Homo sapiens: one gene and its partners. The protein of the gene in region 3 interacts with the protein of the main gene of each other region in a pairwise test. Each region holds a gene or a part of one and is shown on either strand. Other genes may lie near its edges.

Region 1 (7,034 bases), on a different chromosome or scaffold from region 3:
TGGGCTTTTTTTTTTTTTTTTCCTTTTTACCTCTATCATTTAGTGTGAAGCTTTCAGAGTTCATCCTGCTTTTTTGGAAAGAGAAGCTGAGACTTGGGCCTTTCTCTCCCTTTTATTGTCATTATTGCTCCTGGAAGTTAATGACTTTAAGCACATTGAGGGCTCACCCAAGTTTAGAGTGAGGGTTGGCCTTGACATTCTTATTCCACTCGCCACCAAGACTCCCTATGGCCTCAGATCCCGTAGTCCATCTCGGAGGACAGATCACTCTGTGCCTGTGGACAGAAAGCCTGGGGAAATGTCTGCTGGCTTATGGAAGCCTAGAGAGTTTTCCTGGGACTCTCAGGAACAGGATTTTTGGTGTCATACGCTTTATAATTTTATGCTTGTAACATTGTGTGTGTGTTCATGTAATTATGTGTGTCTGTGTGTGTGTATGTCTGCACACCTGCCTGTGAACATACTGGGGGTAACACACTCTAATGCCTTCAGGTTGGGTAGGCAGCCCCACAGGCCCAGGTCAGTGAGGAGTGGTGGCCCTCCGACAAACTGGAGAGTGCATGCCCTGCCTTGAGCCCACAAATCCTATTTTTAAAATGCTGCAGGCCAAAACCCCCAAATCTATGACCCATATATGGTCTGAGAGCTACTTATTTGCCTTCCCTCTTACCATAATATCACTATTGGCAGTGATGTAACACCTGGAATCTGAGGGCCAGCATATAATTTTGTATACATTCCCGAAGTATATTTATTTTGCTCATTAGAATAACTGTATTTTTTTAAAAAGGGAAGCACAGTTACTTGGTGTGAATTTAGCAAAGTGCACAAATACATTAGGAGCAAGGCCTGTGGGGTCTAAAGCAGCAGTTCTAAACTCAGCTGTGCAGAATCCTAGGGCTCTGCAGAGTCTCCCCCAAAGGGTCCTGAAAGGAACACTGCAGGGAATGGCCAAGTATGGGCTTAGCCCTCTCCACACCTCCCCTCATTCTTCAGATAAAGCAGCCCCACTTCTCTAAATCTGTTCTTTGTATTGGAGGGGATACAAGAAAGGGGTAAAACATGGGCTGTGGAGCAGCCTTCCTGGGCTTGAACTTGAACCCCCTCTCAACTAGACATGGGACTTGGGCAAGTTACTAACCTCTCTGTATCTCATTGGTAGATTAACTACAGCATTAGAATAGTGCCTGGCTATTATACATTGAGCTTAGTAGTATGCCTGTATTTAATTTCCTACCCCTCACATAAGAGTTTTGCATTGGTTCTTGTAGAAGAACAACAGATACAGGATTATTATGTTCCACATGGCTCCCACAAGGCTGCAATGAAAGTCCTGAATCAAGGACTCTAAGATCAAATGACTCTTGTGGTCATCTGGCTTGACCAGGGCAGGAATCCTTCCCATGTCATCCTGGTGAAGAGCCCACGTGCTGCACTCAAAACATGCCGAGCAGTTGCCTTTCCCTACCAGAGAAGGGCTGTTCCATCCATAGTGGATGTAAACATGTGTTTGTATAATATCATTTTAATTGGGCAAATGATGTTAGAGTAATAACAAAAGAATTATTTTCAAAGATTTTAAGTTTTATCCACATCAAATATTTTTATGTCTTACATTCTGTTTTAGATCTTGTCATTGTACATACATAATTCTACCATTTTAACAATAATCATTCAAGTTTACTTAATAGTTATCCAGCTTACTTTCTATTTTATTCTCATATTATAAACATTTTCTATTTTTCTAAAGAGGTGTCATAATGATCCATTTTAATGACTATGCAATATTTCATCTAGTTTAGTACTGTAATAAGCTATTTTCAATATTTATGTATTTTGAAACAATACATGTTTTTATGCAGTTATCTTATTTCCTTTTGAATAATATCTTCAAGCTATATCCTAGGAGTATATTCTGAGTTAAAGGGGGATAAATATTTTTGCAGCTCTTGATAATCTATTTCTAAATTGCTTTCCAAAAGGATTATGCTAGTGTACATGTCCCCCAGCCATAGATCTGCATAATGGTGTCAATACAGACTTTCCAGCATTGAGTAAATTTTCTACATTATTTTTGTTAATTTAAAAGTCAAAAGTAGTATTTCGTTGCTCTTTTTGAATCAAAAAATCCCACTGATCCCAATGAGTTCTTTCTGGAACAACAGAGAATAAATTAGCTGAGAGCTTCAAATATATGAAGATAGGATCAAATGGAAACTCAATGGAAGAGTAGCATATAAACGTAAGTTATTACTTGTAAAGATATTTGAGTTCCTCACAAGAAGTCCAAACCAAATGAAATTTTCCAAAGAAATCAATGAAATGCAACTTTGAAAATTTTTTTCTACCAATCATTTTTTTTTAATGAGATAGGGCATGTTTTTTGGTACTTCTTCGGGAACTTTCTGACCCTACTTAAGTGGAAAGAAGATGTTTTTAAAACCCATGCCTTGGTTCCACAGGAAAGTGAGCTAGCTGTATCTGTTTCCTTGCAGCCACTTCTGACGGCACAGCAGTTAGCTTCTGCTGTGGCCGGCGTGATGCCGGGAGGCCCCCCAGCCCTCAACCAGCCAATCCTCATTCCCTTCAACATGGCGGGACAGCTAGGAGGCCAGCAAGGACTGGTTCTCACACTGCCAACAGCGAATCTCACCAACATCCAAGGGCTGGTGGCAGCAGCTGCAGCCGGAGGCATTATGACTCTGCCACTGCAAAATCTACAAGGTAATCCATAATGTCCATGCGCCACGTAAGGCTCTACCCGTTGGCCAGTATTCTCTGAAGTGGGCAAAAAAAAATGTGCCTAGAATGGTGAATGTGGTTCAGAGTTGCTTCTGCCCTAAATGATATGGAAGGCTTCCACAGGAAGCAAAATTTTCAGTTGTCTGTGAATCCTGAGCCTGCACAAGCCATTGGTTTTATCAATCCTCATTTCCTAACATTGGTATCAAAACTTTTCAGGACTCCTGGAAGCATTTATGAGTCATCATTGCATGACATATCAGAAACTTAAAAGTAAAATTCCTGTGTTGTTATTTGAAGACCTGAGTTATCATCTCACCAATTCTTCAATTTAGCCATGGGTAAAGAAAAGTTAGAGGTTGCTTTTTTGTGTTTGAAGTGATTGGAACATCTCAAATACAAGATATTATTTGGAATAATTTATTAATGATTATTTTGCTCTACAAAGTATGTTTTAGTTATAGTTATTAAACAAAAATTGTGTTATTTGAGCTCATATTTTGCAATGAGAAAAATAGACTTGTATGTTGAGCCTTTATACTACAGGGACATATAACAAGTCAGACTCTAATTTTACTTAGGAAGGGTAGTTGTCTTGATATTATGAAGGTTTTGACTTTTCTTTAAAAGATTTGGTAGCATTGACTGATAGATTGATTTACAAAAGATTCTGTCAGAGGAGTAATTATTTTGGTGGAAAATGACCTGAATATAAATAGGATGCCTGCTAAAGAGAAAATGAATTTATTTTGGACTAGTCAAAGATGTTTGTTTTCTTCATATATATATAAAATTAACAATTAAAATTTTTGCAGAATGAGGGCCTGTCTGGGTAAGTTATCAGAATAGCAATTTAAAATACTTTTTTAGCTGGTCAAATGTTAGGGCTTCATATAATTTATCGGAGAATCAGTCCACAAGACTAAGAAACAGACCAAGTAAGAACTGTTCACTCTTGACCCAAACTTCTTTCCGTTCTCTATGTTCTGTTACCCCACCCATTGTTGCCACTTCTTGACTTCCATTTTGATGTTTAAAACGAAGTCTCTCTTGTACCATTAAATTGTGCCAAGAAACCTGCCATTCATAAATCATGCATGCCCAGGATACGCTAATGCACAAACTTTGCTTGTTTCAAATTTGAGAGTGCCTGGGAAGCCAGATCTCAAGATTAAGCAAATAAAGCAGGAATACACAAGGTGAAAGCCGAAGCAACAAAGTGTAGGGAGAGGCGTTTTAATGTAGGTGGATGATGAAATCTTAATGAAGAAATGGGCATTATCAAAATGCAGCCTTCCGTTTGGAACATTTGTGCTTATGGGAATATTGAATATTATAAATAAACATAAGCTCAAAGAGCTCCTAGGCCATGAATTAATCCTGCTTGGTTAAGATGGTTGCCAAAAATCAGAGTTTAAAAAAAAAGTAGGCTTGTTATTTCTTGATCATAGTTTGATATTCTTAAGATATTAGTACCTGTTTTTTTAAGGGTTCAAAATTAATGATTGGTCCAACGTGGACTTCTTCCACCAAGATTTTCCCTTTTGTTTTTGTTTGTTGTAAATATCAAAGTTCATTATTAGCGTATAGTTTGGAGTTTGGTTCTTTGAGTCACCTCTGGTTTCAGAAAAGGAATCCCAAGCTTTGTAGCCTGATTAAGTAGGGGAAACAAAAGTTCTTGCTTTTCTTATCCCTGGGCACTTCTGACACAATTTCCCTCTCAGCATCATCTTCAGAAGTGGGTTGGAGTTGACGCCCAAGCTCTTGTCTGCTACACAAGCACAAGTGAACATTTCCCCCTTTGTCTTCCTCTTTGAAATTTGACTGACGTTGGAGGGAAGGTGATGAGGTTATTAGAATAAATCACCTCCCAGTTGCAAATCAGCTGGTTATAGGAAAAGCTTTCTAATTAGTATAAGTCTCAGGTAACCCAGAAAGAGGTGGTCATCCTAACGAGAAGTTCAAGGGCAATAAGGATGGTAATCAGGAAAGTCTCATGCCTCAAAAGTGCCCAAGATAAATGTCCACCACCTAAAGGGCAAAGCCAGTGGTCACCTTGTAATCAATCCACCAGCAGCCATCCCAAAGCTGATTTTCCCACCTTTAGGCGACCTATTGCACAGCCCTTGATAATCCCTAGGCAGAATCAATGGCTTGTGGAGCTTTCCAGGTTATGTTGCAGAAGCAGTGGGACTCGGGATGGTGAGTGAATGTCTGACAGGCTGAAAGGTCATCTGCAGGGGTTCTGAGACTGAGCTAGTCTTCAGGATGACCTCAAATCTCATCCTCTCTCAAAGGTGAGAGTTAAGGGTGAGAGTCTTGTAAATGGACTATCAGTACCTTAGAAGGAATCCTTACATGCATTCATGCAGTCAACAGCGAGGGGAGAAGGCTGTTTCCTTTCCCCCATCTCTTTCCTGTACAATAAATACAGTATTTATCAACCCAAGGCTTTTCAGAGTCTTTAAAAACAACTCTTAAGTCTGCTCGTCTATAATAAACACCCCACTTCTCCAGTGATTTTATAAAACATATTTGGTGGGTCATTGTGAGGGGCAGGTTTCATACCTAGTCTGCACACCTAGTCTGAAGCACAGCCTGTTACCATGTAACATGCTTGGTCATGAATAGTGCCCTTTTCCTCATTGTGAAGTGTTAAGCTTTTATTCATGAAACAGTTCGGCCAACTGGAATTATCTCCAGCCTTCCTACCCAGCCCTCTAGCCTGTCTATTCTTCTAGCTCAAAAGTCACAAATTTGCTAGGATGAAAGGAAAAAAAAAAGTTGCTGACATCAGTCTCTTAATGGTTTGGAATTCAGGGATAAGTTTTCAAATATTTTCCTTTTTACTGAAGTGATTGAGAGCGTGTTCATTTACATCCCCTATCAAGTCACACAGAATAGCTCTCAGAGCCTTGGAGGCCATGATTTACACATGTATTTTAATGAGCACTCATGACATGCTGTTACACTGAGAGCAGCTCTTCTCGACTCTGACAGCGGGGGTCATATCACAATCTCCTCTTAAAACATGGTCCCCAGACCAGCGGCATCAATGTCTCCTGGGAGCTTGCTGGAAATACAGGATCTCAGGCTCTACCCGAGATACCCAAGACTCTCGGAACAGAATCTGCATTTTTAAAAGATCCCCAGATAATCCCCATGCACATTAAAGTTTAAGAAATGCTGATCTAGGGAGATTATTCAAAGTTCATTAGGCAACTCCCTGCCTTAGTCTGTTTGGGCTGCTATAACATAAAAACCATAGGTAGGGTGGTTTATAAACAACAGATTGTATTCCTCACAGTGCTGCAGCCTGGGAAGTCCAGGATCAAGGCACAGGCAGATTTGGTTCTGGTGAAGGCCCACTTCCTGGTTCATAGATGTCTGTCTTTTTACTGTGTCCTCCCACCACAGAAGGTATGAGAGAACTCTCAGGGTTCCTTTTATAAAGGCACTAATTTCGTCATGAGGGCTCCACCCTTATGACCTAATCAACTCCCAGAGGCCTCACCTGCTGATACCATCACCTTGGGGGTTAGGATTTCAACATAAAAACTTGGTGGGTTGGGAGGAACAAACACCCAGTCCATGGCATCCCCCAATATCACCAGCAGCCAGAATCAGAGACTCTTATGACAATGGATGACCCACATGAAGGCAGTGAATGTCCTTATTAATGCTCCCGCTCTCACTCACCACCCCAGGCCTCCAGATGAGAATGACAGAAAGGAATAATGTGTGGGAACGTTTTTGCTTCTGTTAGGAGTTTCATATCCTCAAGACCAAGGGAAGTTCTCTTACATAGTGGAAGCCCTCTTGAAGTCCTTGCTCTGAGATTTTATCCAATGAAAGTTTTGCTTTGCTGATAAAAAGACCTTATAACTCAGCAGAAAACCTGTATGTGTGGCCTGGGAATTATTTTATCTTTCTCTCAGATCCTTCCCAGCAAGAAAGAGATTGATTCCTGTCTCATCAGTGATGAGTTCTTATTGTAAGAAGATACACAGTTGTAAGGAGTTAGACATCTTGCAGGATCCTAGGAACAGCCCTGTAACCCAGCCTCATTGGAACCTGGAATGAATTTGGGCATTAGAGCATCCAGCAAACCACAAGGCTGCAGGCTGTATCATCCTCTCCTCTGCAGGAGGCAGGCATCTAATCCCCACACCCAGAATGACTAATGACCCATCTCCCTGTCTTCTCCTGCGCCCTCCAGGACGTTTCTCTACTGCATTGGATGGCTTTTGGCTGAACCATGATTCCGGTTCACTCATGTTCCATTTTGTCTC
Region 2 (7,533 bases), on a different chromosome or scaffold from region 3:
TGTGCGGAGAAAGGCCTCCAGGTGAGAGCTGCATGCTCCGTTTTGGAAGTGGAGTGCTGGGTGGTTTGGGACAGGTGTGGTCTGGGAAGTGGCGGAGGCCGAGCGTGTAGCGTCTCCTCACTTGCAGGCTATGGGAACCGGCAGAGGGGAACACGTGCGCAGGGGCCTGCAGAAGCAGGATGTTATCTGGGCCGAACTGCAAGGGACGGGTGGTGGGAAGGGCAGGGAGGGAGGCCTGGCAGGACCCTGGGCCAGGGCAGTGGAGGCCCGTGGTGGGTGGGAGTGGGAGTCCGGTTGCCGCACGCTGCACGTGGCTGCACAAAGCCTCCTTCCCTCTGGCTCTCCCGCTTCCTTTTCTTCCTAGGCCATCTGAGTGAGGATCCCCGGTTTCCAAAGCTTCAGTGGCCCACTCCGGACCTCTGCCCAGCCTGCCATGAGGAAATTAAGGGCCTGGCCAGCTGGGATGAAGGCCACGTGCTCACATTCTTGAAGCAGCACTATGGCCGCGACAACCTCTTAGACACGTATTCCGCAGACCAGGGGGATTCCAGTGAAGGAGGAACCCTGGCCAGGGGTGAGGAAGAGGAGAAAAGACTCACTCCCCCAGAGGTGTCCCATGGAGACCGAGACACCCAGAGCGTCCGTCCACCTGGTGCACTGGGCCCCAGGCCTGCCCTTCCAGAGAGCTTGCATCACAGCTTGGACGGGAAACTCCAGAGTCTGGATGGGCCCGGGGCCCACAAGGAGGTGGGCGGGGCCGCACCCTTCCTCGGGGTTGACTTCTCCAGCCTGGACATGAGTCTCTGTGTCGTGCTGTACGTGGCTTCATCCCTGTTCCTCATGGTGATGTACTTCTTCTTCCGGGTGAGGTCCAGGCGGTGGAAGGTCAAGCACCACCACCCGGCCGTGTGAGTGCCCGGGTGCTGCCAGCCACGGCGGAAGCTCCCTTGGAGGCAGCCCTGCCCCGTGCCACCTGCAGCTTTAATATTTATGATCAGGGATTTTATAAACATGCGGGCCTGGTTTCACATCGGATGGCACCTTTTGGCTTCAAAGTCCTGGTTTTACAAACGCTCTTCTAACAAGGGAAGAACACGGGGTAATTTTGTGGGGATATTTGCATTCCTGGCGTACTCAAGTCTGTTCATGCTCCTTTTGCAGGTCTTACAGCAAAAAGACTTCTGTATTTTTACTCTTCTAGATGTGAAAAGAGGGTGCAGAGTCCAGGCCAGATAGTCTTCCCCACACACTTTCATCTCGTTTCCTCCACTCCGCCCCATCCTGCAGGGCCTTGTTTTTGTATTTGGAGAACCTCGCCCATCCCCCCCGCGGCTCCTGGCTCCCCCCCACTCCCCTCGCTCCCCCTCCCCCCGCTCCCCCCACGCCCCCTGCTCCAGGCTGCCAAGTGTTTTCCTTTAGCCGGGCGGGGACAGACAGAGCCGGAAGCGCAGTCGGCCTCTGCAGCCCCTCCAAGCAAGTGCTCCAGGGACTATCCTGTGTTTGTAGCTGCTTCCCTAGGGCAGGTTCCTGAGGGCTCTCCTTGTTCCTCCGGGTGTTCGACACCAGACGTGGGGATTTCAACAGGGGAGGAGCCAAGGAATTCTGTGGCTGTGCTGCGTTTCAGAAAATAACCCCCAGAGGCCTTGGGCTGTGGACCTGGGGGTTGGAAGGATGGGGGCTCATTTAACCCTCAGAGGCAGCGCCTTTGTCTGTCTATCTGGTGACAAGAGAGAGACAAGTAAATGGGGGCCGTTGGGACGGCGGGTGCCTGGAGGGCAGCTCTGGGCTCAGCGGGCAGTGCTTAGAGCACAGGCCCCTCTGTTGGGGGATGGGGAGGAGAGCAGTCTGCCCTTGGGAGCGTAGGCCCCAGGGAGACTTCTAAAGCCCCCCCTGTCGTCTGCTCTTCACCCAGCACCACAGAGGCACCTGCTGCACACACAAGCATCTCACTCGGCCCACGGAGGGGGCCAGGCTTCCTTTGCCTGAAGCTGTTTTGGGAAGGGTCTCCACACAGGCACTGATCTCCCAAGCTTTTGTCATGATGTCTTTTACCATTTGATAATTTTAAACATTGTTTTTAAACCCAAAACATTTAGTGGTCCGTTGCCTCTGAAGATGTAAACAAACAAATACACTATTTCTGGGAACATTTATATTGAGATTCTTTGTGGCTATTGGTGTGTCTCACAGGCAAAATTTGATTTGGCTAAAATAGGCTCAGATGTATTTGTGTGCCCGTGTGTGTGTGTGTGTGTGTGTGTGTGTGTGTGTGTGTATGAGAGAGAGAGAGACTTTGACGGTTGTAGATATTTTTTCCGCTTTGCCTACTTTATGTTGTATAATCATGTGTTTACTAACAAGTTGATGACATGGATGTATTCATAAGACCATGTAATATTGATGTGATTGTTGTCGCTTGAGAAAAAAAGGCAACAGCTGATTCTTTCAACAACTGTCACAGAATGGCTGGGCTGAGAACGCTGCCCAGGGCCCTGCAGCTGGCGGGAGAGGTGTCTGGTGGGAGCGGTGTCTGGTGCGTCAGCCTGCTGCTTCGTGTCTCACTCGAGAGTTGCTTCTGGTTTCACACTTTTTAACCCCTCTGTGCTTTAGCAGCCGTGACCTTGCCTTCATTGCTTCATCCAGTGCAGGCCTGGGTTATTGAAGACACCAAAGTGTTTCTCTTCCAGTTTGAAAACCAGGCAGGTTTACACGTGGGTTTCAGTGTATTTGCCTTTGAACCCTTCAAACTAAACTTTAGCCTTTTGGCTGGTGTTGAATGTCTTTAGCTGGGGTGACCTGGAGTGACCTGGGACGGTGTTGTGGTTTACCGTCTCCAGCTTCAGCCTTTCCAGAAACCCTTGTGGAGGGCAGTGTTGGCTGCAGGTTTCATCATATTGCAGTTTGAGGTCACCACTATTTGGGGAACAAGCTTGCGTCCTGCTGAGGGGCAGGATTTTCAGCAGAGCGTCGGTGGGGCTGGGCCGTCGTGGAGGTGGCCCCAGGAGTCATATGGCCATACTCAGACACACCTTGTGTGGCCTGCTCAGAGCTGGATGCCACCTTTAGGCAATGTTTAGAGTCTATTTTCTAAAGTTTTAAGTATTTTAAGAGGTATTGAGACTAATGAATATAATAGTTCAGTAATTTAAATGCTTATTTATTTTCAGTGGAAGGATTTTTATTAAAAAGAAGCTAATTGACATGGAAATGTCAGTGAAATTTCTTACCTGCAAGGAAAGTGAACATTTTGTATTTAAGTAAACTATAATGTGCACATTTTAATAAAGAAATCTGACATTTGAAAAAATGGTGATTCTTTTGAAATGTGAACCAGCTCTACCAGTGGGAGTTGTGGTAGAGGCGGTGGGTGCAGAATGGACCCCTCTTTTGTTCACGTACTGGACATCTGAAATCCTAGAGTTTCTCCTATCGAATCATTGGCTTTTGGGACACAGCCCAAGGGTCGGATGGAAAGTAGAAGATGGAAAGCAGTGATAGATCATCTCCCTGGAGCTGATCTGGACGAGACTCACAGGACAAGACCCTTGATTTTACACAGGTTAAAGGGCAGCTGAGATGCATGTCAGCTACACACTTCAAAGAGCACGCGCGGCAGCCCAGCCTGAGGGCACCTCAGAGGACCCCCAGCTTGCTTGAGTGGCCATCCCTCTGCTTCCTGGGTGTGAGTGTCCTGCTAAGGCTGTTTGTGGTGTTCTGTGGGGTGCCCTTGACCCCGTGTTGTCTTCTGCCCCTCCCCTACTTTTGCTGTGCCAGTGGGGGCAGGGCAGTGGTCAACAGTCTTGCCTGTGGCTGTGGAGGAAGCCGGTTGGCACCTCCCTGGCCAGGCTGTGCAGAGGCTGGCAGTAACTCAGTCACTCGTCAGGCACCGAGCAGACACCAGCCTGGGTGTGTACTGGGCGATTCCTTCAGGCCCTGCCTATGCCCAAGGTCTTGAGTCCTCAGCAGTGCTTTTGTTACAGGGGACTGCAGGTGCCTCTCCTCCTGGCAGCCCGGAGGGGTGCGGGCTGAGCTCCTCCCAGAAGTTGGGGGTTGAGTTCAAGGAGGTTAAGAGTGGAAAGTTCCCTGACCAGCAAAACACCTGCAGGAGAGTGCCCCAGTGAGCCCTGGGCTGGAGTTGATCACGCATGGGGCTGCCCCGGGGCACGGCCTGGGCACTGCCTTCCAGAGGCTGCACGCCAGAAGGGTAGGGTCAGTGTCCTCCTGCCCTGCGGCTGGACGACCCGCTTGCTGCGAAACTCGGCGAATCCCAGCGCCTCAGCAGGGCCTGGAGCTTAGGGAGGAGCGGGCACGGCCACCCTGGGTCTCAGAGGGGTGAGGGCGGGGGCTGCCTTGAGTGCGGCCCAACCCAGCCAGGGAGGGAGGCGCGCCCGACACGGGGCAGAGGCGGGGGTGGGGACCGGGGCGACGAGAGGGGCCCCGGGAGGTGGGCGGGCGCGCGGGCGGGGCGGGCAGCGGGCGCCTCCTTCAGCACCGCGGACAGCGCCAGGCCCAGTGGCTCCCGGGCTCCCTGCCCCGCACGACGCGGCGGGACTTGGGAGCCCCGAACCCTCCAGGGGACGCTGACCTAGGAGGAGCGCGTCTCGCGCCACTCGGCCTGGTGGCCGCGATGCTGCTGGAAACGGGGCTCGAGCGCGACCGAGCGAGGCCCGGGGCCGCCGCCGTCTGCACCTTGGGCGGGACTCGGGGTAAGCCCCAGCAGGACACTGAGGACAGAAACGGCAAGGGCGGCAGAGGCGCGAGGAAGGGGGTGCGTGCAGGGCCAGCGGCCAGGCAAAGAAAGTCCCGCCGCTCTGCAGGCGGGACACAGAGATGGAAACTGCAGAGAGTGAGTTTCCAGATCCCAGGGTGGCGGGGAGGGCCTGACGCTGGCCTGCAAGAGTGCGGGACAGCGGTTGGAGTGGAGGCCCCTAGAAAAAAAGGGGGCATCGCAGGCACAGCTGGGGGGCGATGGGGCCGACCAAGGGGTGCTAGGTTCCCCCGGTGACCAGTGCCCGTCAGCTCTTGCACACAGCCCGGCCCAGGTCTCTGGACCCCACAGCAGGGGACCCAAGCCTGTGTCTCCCGCCTGAACCACCCTCCCCAAGGGCCATTCCATCACCACGGACGCTGGGAAATAATGGAGGCATTGTTGGAGGGCTGGCCAGATGCCAGCAGGGTGGGCCGCCTCCTTAACCTGCCGCCGCCCCTTCCCCAGTCCTGCCACACACGACCCCTGATCGCTTCGGCAGCAGCTGACACTCAGCCACCTGCACCCAGCACAGCCCGCACACACTCGGCTTTGCACCCGCGTGTCCTTGCCCTGGCCCTTCTTGGGTAACAAGTGCTGTGCAAAGTGAAGGGGCAGAAAGCTGGCTGCATGGGCCACTGCTCAAAACGGACACATCGGACCTGCTGGGAGCTAGGAGGGAGGGACTGTGGTTTCTTGTGCCCATCCTTCTGGGCCTGGGCCCTTAAAGCTCACAGTCCAGAAGCCATAGGCAGAGTGGACAGAGTATTGCTGTGAGACCCACAGGGAGAGGGACCTGCAGGATGGCATCAGCCCCTGGTCCCCCAACCCTTCCTGTGTGTTTCTGCGCACTGCCAGGGCACCCCTGCCTTTGCCAAGTCCTGTGCTGCCGAGGGCCACCCACTGCTGTGTTCTTCCCCGGGTGGCTGCCCAGGGCTGGTGCTGGCCCAGGGCCCTCTGGGCAGGGGTGGGTGCGTCCCTCTGCCTGCAAGGACAGGTGGGTTCTGGAGAGCTCACCTGTGTGGACTGGGGCAAGAGGCTGAAATATCAGGTAAGGGACCGTGTTCCAATGGAGCCGGAGTGCTGGGGGCTGGAAATGGAAGGTGTGCCCTGGGGCTTCCCCAGCTCGGCCCCTCACGACCCGAGGTCTTGGCTGCGTGTCCAGGACACAGAGCCTGTTCTCTCTCAAGGATTGCCCTTCCTCCCTGAGCCGTCCGGGGCCGCAGTTCCAGGGGTGGAGCCCAGAAGCCTGTTAGCATCTGGGATCGGTCCGGCACCTTGCGGTTCCGGTACGCAGCCCTCGGCGCCACACTCACCCCTTCTGCGTTTCGGGTTGAGCTCCCGCCGACCATCTGCTGCTCCCGAGGCCAAACCTCAGCGGCGGGAGGACCCTGCTGCCTTCTCGACCCCTCTCCCGGGAACCTTAGCCCTCCTGGCGTGTGCTCCAGCTCAGGCCTCTGCCTCTGGGCCGCTCCGGCGCAGGAAGCTGCGGGGCCGGGACGAACGCTGGCGGGAAGCCCTGACCTGGGCCCTCCCTTACCGGTGCCCGCCCTCGGGCCGGGCACGCGGGGCGGCCTCTGGGCACCGCAGGTCCCGGCGCAAAGGCGCTCAGAGTCCGCAGTGGCCCGGGCTGGTCTCCGCGACCCCCGGCCCCGCCCCGCCCCGCGGCCCCGCCCCCCGGCCGCTCCGCCCTCCGCTCGGCCAGAGGCTCCGGGCCCCAGGGCGGCCCGCGGGCGCAGCGCCCAGCAGCACCCGGAGTCGCTTGGACGCCGGTTCGGGGCTATTGCGGGGTGGCGTCGCTGGGCCCGGGAAAGTTCGGGACTGGAGAGTGGCGACGCCGGGCGGCGGGACCCATGGAGGCGCGCGGGGAGCTGGGCCCGGCCCGGGAGTCGGCGGGAGGCGACCTGCTGCTAGCACTGCTGGCGCGGAGGGCGGACCTGCGCCGAGGTGGGTGCCCGGGCCGAGTGGCTGCACCGGGGAGACCAGGAGATCCTCAGGCCTTTCCGGGCCTGGCCGCGGAGGCTGGCAGGAGCTAGAGGATCTGGGCGGGAGTGGGCGCGAGGACCCCGGAACGTCCGCGCCTGGGCGCCTCAGCCTGTATTTGTTGCAGGGCCCCTGGCCTGGGTTGTCAGGGAGTGAGTGAGGTTGTGGCACTGCGCTGCTCCGGCCAGGGAGCTCTCGGGGGTCCAGGGTGGGCTTAGGAGACCTCTGCAGCCCGGAGCCAGCTCCCTGGGCTGGAGGAGGCGCAGGGAGCAGTGGCGGGGCAGTGACCACGGGACAGGAGGGTCCCCAAGAAGGCCGCCCCAGCCGGACTCTTTCCACGTTCCAGCGGAACAGAGTCAGATGCAGGGGCCAAGGTCGAGCTGAACTCCGACCGTCGGTCTCCCCGAAGTCAGGTTTCAGCGTCTGCGCCCACAGACACCCGCTCGGTTTATCCCCGCTCAGGGCCCGTCTGTAGGAAAAAGCCTCTCTTCTCCAGGCCCCCCAGCTTCCTGGTGGCACCACTCTAGCTCCCAGCACTTTGGTTCTTAGGGAACCTGGGCAGTTCTCCTCGACTCCCGGGCCAGCTGGAGCCGCAGGATGGGGAAGGAGGCCCCGGAGCCAGTGGGGAGTGAGAGGGACCGGCCGGCGGGAAGGGGGTTACATCCAGGCTGTGGGGGCTCGCGGTTCCCTACTTATTTATTTATTTTTCGACGGTTCCTGGGAGGGGTTGGCCGCGGGGGCTGGGGGGCGGAGAGAGGGAGGGAGGAAGGAGGACTGCGCGCCCGCGCTCGGGAGAGCTGGCC
Region 3 (2,921 bases):
ATCCCAACAATCCATCACTCACAATAAAAATCTGTTGGCTGAGCCAAAGTCCAACTCCAGGGGAATTCAAGTCACCACCTCTCATGAATCTTCCTACATCCAGACACATATTATTCAGAATCTCCTTTAATTCCACAGCTCTAGAGATCATGCCTACCTGCATTTGCTCTTGGGGATCAATGAGAAAATCAGATGGCCTTGGGAGACAAGGTCCACATCAGGCCAGGAGTCAGGGACAGGAGTGTAAAAATCTGATTTCTCTGAAAGTTCCTGCCACCAGTACAAACACTCTTGAGCTTTTCCACAGAGCCATGGGACCTCTAGTGGCAAGAGAGCCATGCTACCTCCATCTAGCAGTGAAGTGAAGGCCCTGCTATGAGAGCCATGCCCATGAACACCAGGTCATTCTCTTCAGCCCAGCAAATGTTTACTGAGCTCCTACTACCCCTAATACCTGCCAGGCCCACTTCTGGGTGTTGGTGATGCAGCCACGAGAGGTAAGACCCATGACTCCCAAATTCCACTCTACACACTGCTGGCAACTCAGTCTTTATTGATGGTTTCATTTTTGGGGTCACCAGTGCTAAGAGGTGGAAGGTGGGGGGGCACCTTTATGTGTGTCAAGGACCCCAGAGCACCCCCCTCACGAGAGAATAAATCCAATTTAGAACTTACAAGGTGGTGGGGATGGGAAGAGGAAGGGACACAGTATGTACAGATGCTTAAGGGGATGCTGGAGGGCCTTCAGCAACAGGGAATGGAGGTGCCAAAGAGGAAGTCGGGCAGAGTCAGCCACTGATCTGGACCCCCTCAGCCTCGGCCAGAGGGTAGATCTCAATGGCTTCCACCAGGGGTAGCGCCTCCACAGCAGTCTCCATGACGGCCAGGCCAACGGCAGCCTCCGCCTCTGCCAGCTGCTGCCGCACAGCTGCCTGATGCTGCTGCTGATGGGTCTTGCGGTGCTTCCAGAGGTTGGAGAAGGAGCGGTAGCTCTTGCCACAGTCAGGGCAGGAGTAGGGTCGTTCGCCTGTGTGGATGCGGCGATGTTCTGCCAGGCGCATGGAGATGGCAAAGGCCTTGCCACACACTTCACAGGCAAAGGGCCGCTCACCTGTGTGCAGGCGCCGGTGGTCTTTCAGGTGGGTACTCTGACGGAACGCTTTGCCACAGTCTGGACATGGGTATGGCCGCTCACCTGTGTGGATGCGCCGGTGCACCTGCAGTGACGTCTCTGTGCTGAACAGCTTCTTGCACTCGCTGCACTCTAGACCCCGGCGGCGGGCAGGGGCCGCAGGGGATGCTGTAGCAGTGCTTCCAAGGGCTGCTGGAGAGGCAACTGGTGCACGAGTGGCCCGTGGGGCTCGAGGGGCAGGGGGCTCCTTAGCCAGGACCTCTCCAGGCCCAGCAGCTGCATGGGCCGCCTCGTGTGCCTGCAGTCGAGCAGCTGAGCCCACTTTCTTGCCACAGGTGCCACACTCAAAGCGCCGTGGGGCCTGGGCAGCAGCGGCTGCACAGCGGTGCTCCCGGAGCCGCAGTGAGGAGGGGAAGGCAGCCCCACAGGATGGGCAGCGGTGGGGCTGGCGCCCGGCATGGACCACGAGCTGGTGCACCTCCAGCAGCCGACGCAGCAAGAAGGAGCGGGGGCACTCGCGACACTTGTAGGGGTATTCACCTGTGTGATGGTAGCGGTGCATGAGCAGGCGGTAAGGACGGTGAAAACGCACCCCACATTCCTGGCAGCGGTAGGGGAAGTGCTGGGCATGCACCAAGCGGTGCTGCCTCAGTGTGGAGCTTTGCGTGAAAGCCTTGCCACAGTCCCCACACCGGTAGGGCCGCTCTCCTGTGTGTGTGAGCCGGTGGCGGGCCAGGTTGGCAGGTGAGTTGAAGGGCTTGGAGCAGTCAGGGCAGGGGAAGGGCCGCTCCCCTGTGTGTGTGCGCAGGTGGTTACGCACGTGAGACTTCTTCTTGAACATCTTGCCACAAATGCTGCATTTATGGCGCCGCTCCAGCCGATGCACAAAACGTTGGTGCCGGGTCAGCTGCAAGGCCTTTCCAAATTCACGGCTGCACAGGAGGCAGCGGTAGGTGCCTGGGGCAGCGGGCCCTGCTGAGGTCTCCTCAGACACAGGGGGCTCAGGGGCCTCTGGCTCTCCAGTCTCTGCTGGGGCTGGCTCAGGGAAACCAATGACAGGTTCCTCTGGTGGGACTGGTGTTGTGGGCAGAGGGACACCCCCTACCCCATGAGTACGCCGGTGATAAAGGAACTTGGTAAGGTTGACAAAGGTCTTCCCACATGGACATGAATGCAGAGGATTCGGGGTGTGGGCTCGCCGGTGGGCCAGGAGGAGGGCCTCTGTGCCGAAGGCCAGGCCACAGTCTACACACAGGAAGTGTGACTCGCTGCTATGGTCTCCAAGGTGCTGGTCCAGACTGGAAGGGCTAGGGAAGACACGACTGCACAGGGGGCACTTAAAGACGCCCTCCCGGTGACTCCGCAGGTGCTGCTGTAGCTGGTGGGGTGAGAGAAAGAGCTGGTCACAGGCTGAGCAGAAGAGCTCCTGTGTGGCTGCCCCGCCTGCTTCTCCACTGTTGTTCCTCCGGGCCCTGCGCCCCCGGCGATCCCGCCCAATGGCTTCACCATTGCGCAGCTCGTAACTGTGGTCAGAAGCTGGCAAGGGGTCAGGCTGAGACACAGGCACCTCTGCAGGTGACGAGGCCTGCACCTCCTGCTGTAAGGCAGGCTCCTGAGACTCGGGTACAGGAGCAGGGAAGTGAGTGGCCTGGTGCTCCAGGAAATCCGCCGGCAGCTGGAAGAGCTGGGAGCACTCAGAGCACTTGTAGAGGAGCAGCTCCACCTCAGTCACTACCTCAGTGGTGGTGGCAGCGGCAGATGGGACAGTCGCCCCTTCCCCACCCTCTTC

Evidence for each region. The genes of interacting proteins can lie anywhere in the genome.
Region 1: the proteins of ZNF574 (region 3) and POU6F2 interact in binary tests that used the Homo sapiens proteins (3 or more experiments, as listed by UniProt).
Region 2: the proteins of ZNF574 (region 3) and LHX3 interact in binary tests that used the Homo sapiens proteins (3 or more experiments, as listed by UniProt).

Annotation. Positions count from the first base shown.
Region 1 is NC_000007.14:39,204,897-39,211,930, forward strand, and holds part of POU6F2 (POU domain, class 6, transcription factor 2), read left to right. Parts: intron 1-2,495; coding exon 2,496-2,724; intron 2,725-7,034. UniProt on the Homo sapiens protein: Probable transcription factor likely to be involved in early steps in the differentiation of amacrine and ganglion cells. Recognizes and binds to the DNA sequence 5'-ATGCAAAT-3'. Isoform 1 does not bind DNA.
Region 2 is NC_000009.12:136,202,107-136,209,639, reverse strand, and holds the start of LHX3 (LIM/homeobox protein Lhx3), read left to right. Parts: upstream 1-4,511; 5' UTR 4,512-4,627; coding exon 4,628-4,706; intron 4,707-6,450; exon of another isoform or gene 6,451-6,600; coding exon of another isoform or gene 6,601-6,694; intron 6,695-7,533. Other genes in the region: QSOX2 (sulfhydryl oxidase 2 precursor), read left to right, coding at 365-912. UniProt on the Homo sapiens protein: Transcription factor.
Region 3 is NC_000019.10:42,079,165-42,082,085, reverse strand, and holds the end of ZNF574 (zinc finger protein 574), read right to left. Parts: coding exon 789-2,921; 3' UTR 534-788; downstream 1-533. UniProt on the Homo sapiens protein: May be involved in transcriptional regulation.